Regions from separate parts of the Homo sapiens genome. Here region 2 is linked to region 1. Evidence: fine-mapped expression QTL. A gene starts in region 1. The other region holds a variant in brackets. All regions are shown on one strand. Distances are from middle to middle.

Region 1 (2,897 bases):
CGGGAAAGCCCTGGGTAACGACTCAGGATGGCATTCAGGCCTTTCCTGGGCAGGGGATGGCCACAGGTTTCCCTGGCGGCGGTGTCTATCAATCCCGTCCCAAGAAGGAGAGCCTGGGCGTGGAGGTTCTGGGCAGCTGAAGGCAGAGATCCATCCCTTCCCTGGCTACCCACCCCCACCTCAGCAACGCCTCCCAGAACGCTCCAAAGCTTTCTCAAGTCCCCGCTCCCAGGTTAGGGCCCTGTAGCCAGTTCCAAGGTCTTTTTCAGGAGCGCGCTTCCCAAATAAAGTTGAGAGGGGGCGGGGGGAATGAGGGAGCCCCAGATCCACCTCAGAGTGGTCCCCAGAGGGCTTGGGCCCCTTTCTCCGGATTGTTCAGTGGGAAGGAGGGCCGGCTGGTGCCTCAGGCCCGCGGGACTGTGACAGCCGGCGACCCCTGCGACCTCCCTTTCTACCCGGGCGCCCCCACCTTGAGATAGTCGTTCTCCGAGCGCAGCTCCTCCAGCTCCCGCACCAAGCCGCTGGGCCCGCAGTCCAGCATCTCCTCGGTGAGGTCGGAGAAGGCAAGCGAGGCGCTGAGCGGCAAGCGGCTGCTGCCCACCGACGACGCGGCCACCGACGGCTCGTCCGGGGAGGCGGGCGGCCGCGGGGGCTGCTGCGCGGAGGGCGCGGGCTGGGCCGGCTGCCCCGTACGGACCCCCGCCGGGCCCCCGGCCGCGGACTCGGCGTCGCTGCTCAGCGCCAGCTCCAGGCCCAGCAGGCGCGCCTCCTCCGACGCGCAGTCCGACACCTCCGAGCTGCTATCCGTGAGGCTGGGGGGCGGCGGTGGCGGTCGCGGCCCCGCACCCGAGCGCGGACGGCCCTTGGCACGGACCCCGGTGCGGACCCCGGCCACCCGCACACCCGCACCGCGCGCCCCGGGAGCCACTGCGCGCCCCTTCTTGTCCGGCCGTGAGGAGAACGCGGCGCTGCAGGCGACTGCTGAGCCCGGGCCTGGGCCGCGGCGGCCCTTAGCCAGCGACCAGCCGGCCACGTCTTTGGGCCGGGCCGGCGACGGCGCGCGGTGGCTCTTTTTCCTCTCCGGGGCAGGCGCGGGTGCAGGCGCGGGCTGGGGACCGCAGCCCCGGACCGGGGGCTCGGCCGCCGGCGCCTCCATCGCGGCCTCCCTCGGCCTCAGCGAGCTGCGCGCATGGCCCAGGCCCGCCCGGCCTCGACGTCCCTGGGGAGGGACCCGGCGCGGCTCCGGCCGCTGGGGCTGCGGCTGCTCTCGGCCCACCTCGGCCCCGACACCGCGTCCCCGTCCCAAGCCCCGCCGCGCGGTCTCTCCGCTGCTCTGGGCTCGGAGAGTGCGGCCCGACCGCCTCCAGGCGCCCCGGCTCCGGCTGCGGCTCCGCCCGGCGCCCGCCCCCTCGGCCTCGCCGCGCCCCCGGAGCGCGCCCGGGCCCCCGCCGCCCGCACGCCGATCGCTCCCTCGGGCTCCGAGTCCGGCTGCGGCCCGGGCCCCGGCTCCGCCCGGCGCAGCCCGCCCCCCGCGCAGCCCCGCCAGCTCCCCGCCCCGCCGCCTCGGCTCGGGGGCGCGCGGTTCCGCGAACAAAAGGCGGACGCGGCGGGAGCGGCAGGGAGGGACGCAGGCAGGGAGCGAGGGAGGGATCTGCGAGGCAACAGCGACCCCTTCGAGGGTCAGGCTGGCGCGGGCAGCCGCGGCCCGGGCTCCCTCCTCCTCCGCTCCGCCGCCTCCTCCCCTGCCCGCTCGGGGAAGGCACCCGGCGGAGGCGCCCCTGCGCCCGGCGTCCGGGCAGGGCCTGCGAGAGCGGCGGGAGCCGGGACTCCCGGGCCGAGGCCGGGCGGACCTCAGTTCGCAGGAACCCGCATCCATGCACGCCCAGCGCCTCGCCCCTCGCCCCGTGCCGAGCGTGCGCGAACTCCGCCCCCTTAGCCGGCATCGCCGGAGCCGCGATCCCATCGCACAGATGCGTAAACTGAAGCCTGGGGTGCACGCGCCAAGCTCACGGTCTAGGCGGCGCCGATGGGACCCAAAGCTCACACCTCCCGGGCGCGCTCGGGCTCCCCCTGCCTCGGCTTCCCTCTCCTGGCATAGGGACCGTGAAGCCCTGTGTGCATGCCTGGCTCGCGCACCTTGACCGGCGGATATTTCTCCCCATGCGCCCCCGACCCGGGTTTCAGGCTCTGTACGGCTAAAATGGAAGCGACCCGTAGCTAGGCGCGGTGGCTCATGCCTGTAATCCCAGCACTTTGGGAGGCCGAGGCGGGTGGATCACGAGGTCAGGAGTTCGAGACCAGCCTGACCAACATGATGAAACCCCGTCTCTACTAAAAATACACAAATTAGCCGGGCGTGGTAGCGCGTGCCTGTAATCCCAGCTACTCGGGAGGCTGAGGCAGGAGAATCGCTTGAACCCGGGAGGCGGAGGTTGCAGTGAGCCGAGGTCGCGCCACTGCACTCCAGTCTGGGTGGCAGAGCTAGACTCCATCTCAAAAAAATAAACAAATAAATAAAAACAAAAATAAAATGGAGGGGACCTATTACGAGATGTCAGCCTAGCGGATGCTTTGGAAGGCGGTTTTGGCCCCCGTGGGGGCTGGCATGGGCTGGGACGGTTGCCCTGACCCCACACGTCCCCACCAGGAGCAGTGCAGGAGGACTTGAGCTCTGATGGGCGTGTTTTCTTTCCTCCCGGGCGTCTGGGCGTCTCCTTGGCTCCTGGCCGTGTTGATTTTCCCATGTCTCTCACACCTTCCCCAGCCCCCACACCGCCTGGCCGCTACGCCCCCATCCCTGAGCCACCGCAGGGCAGAGCTGGATTGAGTGCTTTGCCCCACAGATGTACCCTCGTCCTTAGGGTGCCCCACACCCCTTGCCACCAGAAGGGCAGGGC
Region 2 (2,897 bases), 77 kb before region 1:
AAAGCTGACCAGGAGGCCAGGTCTCCAAACCTGGCTGCCAAGCGGCCTCGTCCACCCAGGGGACCCCATGCCTGCCCGTGCTGTTAGAGGCCTCATGTTGTCCCAGTGGCAAGAATGCATGTTTCAACCTCCAATAAATTACCTTAGGGACTTTGGGGTAAATTAAATTATTAAAATAAAGTAAACCACCTTAAATATTTATAGTAGGAAAAATTCAAATAAACAATCTAGGCAAGATACGTGTTTCCAGGCCCCAGTCTACTGCTGTGTCCTGGGCTCTGGCCTCTTGGTGTTCTCCTGGGCCTGACCTGGCCAACCAAGAATCTCTTACTGGGAATATCTTTGCCCCCCGACCAGCTGCAGGATGTAAACACAGTGGAGATGTAGTGCCTGCTGCCTCTCAGGGTGCCAGGGAAAGAGGCCTCTGAGATCACTTGAGATCAAGGCAGTGTATTTAGGCATTTATCTATGCACCAGGTCTTGAGACTGACTCTACCTATTTCTGTCCTCAAGGGGTCTGCTGGGAACGTTGGGGCCCCAAGTCACTTTGGCAAGGAAGGCAATTGCAATCACTCCCCAACCCTGAGCCCTGCATGTTTCCACTTCGCCTCCCAGCTCTTGCTGCATCCAGGCTATGGGCAGGGAGATCCAGGGCTCCAGGACACTAAGCAATGGCCCTGGCTACTGCCCTATCATACTCCCTAGTGTCCCAGCAATCTAGAGCAGTGGGGCTGGGAGGAGGAGGTGGTGGAGAGAAGGAGGTGATGGTGATGATGCCCAACAGGGCTCCACCAGGAACCAAACATGGAGCCCTAGAGCAAAGCCTGTTCTTCTCAGCAGTGTCTCCTCCCAAATGAAGGGGTGGATGGTCAGCAGGAAACATCTCTCCGACTCCTTTTCCCCAAAGGCATGGCCAGACATGTATCCTTCTTGGGCTCTTCCAAGAGGGTGGCATGGGCAGAACCAGGCAAGGCTCTCTCTTAGGACCCAGGGATCGGCTCTTGACAGATCTCTCAGTGGATGCTTGGGAAGCCCAGGTTTGGTCTCTCTCCCACTCACTGCCTTCCCCTGGGAAGTCGAAGCTCACCACCCAGGGGCCAGCAGGAGACCCGGCTTTACCTTGATGTGAAAGCTGCATTCTGGCAGTGGCATCACTGCTGTCCCTCCAGGGCCAGGCAATGCTGAGGACACAGCCCCTCGCCTCACCTCGTCTCGTCTCTGCTGGTTCCCTTCTGCTATCCAGGGGCTGGGCTGGTTGAGGCGGGGAGCTTGGCTGCTCTGTCACTCGCTGGGGGGGA[G/T]TGCCCTCTCCTCCCCACCCCAGCTGGACTCTGAAGGGTGCAGCCTGCACTTGGAAGGAGAGTGGCGGATGGCAGAGCGGGACGATCGGGCGAAGCAGGAGGTGAGAGACTGGGTACTACAGTCACAAACAGCGTCCTAGGAAGAGGGAGGCAGGGAGGCAGGAAGTCAAGAGGAGCCAGGAGACATGGACCACCATGAGCTGTGTGGTATGCCAGGCAAGGAACTGAGACTCGGCCATAAACCAGTTCCCAGGGGCTGAAGCTCCTCACTGGACCAATTTTTTCTTTCTGTTGTTCTTCTCCCATTAGAGCGGTAATGGAAGTTCATTGTAATATATTCTAGGCTATACAGAGAGGACAGTGGACACTGTCCATGGTCCTGCACGCCAAAGAGATTCTTAACATACATTTACCAAAATGACAGCTTATTTTGCAACTGTAAAACACGAACACTTTTCTGTCACTAGGTATGTCTAGATCTCCTTCCTTTTTATCCTTTTTTTTCGTTTGAGACAGGGTCTCACTATGTTGCTCAGGCTGGTCTTGAACTCCTGGGCTCAAGCGATCCTCCTGCCTCAGCCTCCCAAACTGCTGGAATTAGCACCTTTGGGTGCTCATGCCTCCCAAAGGCATGAGCCACCATGCCTGGCTGATCGCCTTCTTTTTTAGTGTCTCTGTACCATTTCACTAGATAGAAATAACTGATTTATATACCCAATTCGCTTTTTTTATTTTTTTATTTTTTAGACAGAATCTTGCTCTGTTCCCCAGGCTGGAGTGCAGTGGTACGATCTTGACTCACTACAACCTCCACCTCACGGATTCAAGTGATTCTTGTGCCTCAGCCTCCCAAGTAGCTAAGATTACAAGCGTGTGCCACCATGCCTAGCTAATTTTTGTATTTTTAGTAGAGAGGGGATTTTAGCATGTTGGTCAGGCTCAAACTCCTGACCTCTAGTGATCTGCCCGCCTCGGCCTTCCAAAGTGGTGGGATTGCAGGTGTGAGCCACTGTGCCTGGCCCCAATTCACTTTTTATGTACATCTGGGTAGTTTCTAATTTTTTACTATTACCAATAAACAGAAATAATGATCAAAAGTGCTGCTGCCAGGCACGGTGGCTCATGCCTGTAATCCTAGCACTTTGGGAGGCTGAGGCAGGTGGATCACGAGGTCAGGAGATCGAGACCATCCTGGCCAACATGGTGAAACCCCATCTCTACTAAAAATACAAAAATTAGCTGGGCATGGTGGCATGCGCCTGTAGTCCCAGCTACTCGGGAGGCTAGGGCAGGAGAATCGCTTAAACCCAGGGTGCGGAGGTTGCAGTGAGCTGAGATTGTGCCACTGCACTCCAGCCTGGGTGAAAGAGCAAGACTCCATCTGAAAAAAAAAAAAAAAAAAAAAGTGCTGCTGGACAGCTGGCCATGGTGGCTCACACCTGTAATGCCAGCACTTTGGGAGGCTATGGCAGGTGGATCACCTGAGGTCAGGAGTTCAAGACCAGGCTGGCCAACATGGTGAAACCCCATCTCTACTCAAAATACAAAAATTACCCGGGCATGGTGGCACATTCCTGCAGTCCCAGCTACTTGGGAGAC

Which allele goes with the higher level. Alleles are on the strand shown, and positions count from the first base shown. SD is a standard deviation of normalised expression in the study named.
With allele G in place of T in region 2, the expression in tibial nerve of the gene that starts at base 1,350 in region 1 is lower (small effect, 0.23 SD a copy in GTEx).

Evidence for each region. PIP is the estimated chance that this variant, and not a neighbour inherited with it, causes the effect.
Region 2: its variant is the best candidate, but not a certain one, in a credible set for the expression of MTCL2 in tibial nerve (GTEx, PIP 0.83).

Annotation. Positions count from the first base shown.
Region 1 is chr20:36,862,189-36,865,085 of GRCh38, forward strand. MTCL2 (microtubule crosslinking factor 2) reads right to left here and starts at 1,350. Exons shown (of 15, transcript NM_080627.4): 1 at 470-1,350. The coding sequence starts at 1,156. RefSeq lists silencers at 950-1,099, 1,170-2,059.
Region 2 is chr20:36,785,204-36,788,100 of GRCh38, forward strand. MTCL2 (microtubule crosslinking factor 2) reads right to left here. Exons shown (of 15, transcript NM_080627.4): 15 at 1-1,434. The coding sequence ends at 1,282. Among named protein-coding and RNA genes, the nearest start is that of DSN1, 13 kb to the left of the region's middle. The variant G/T (reference allele first, on the strand shown) is at 1,299.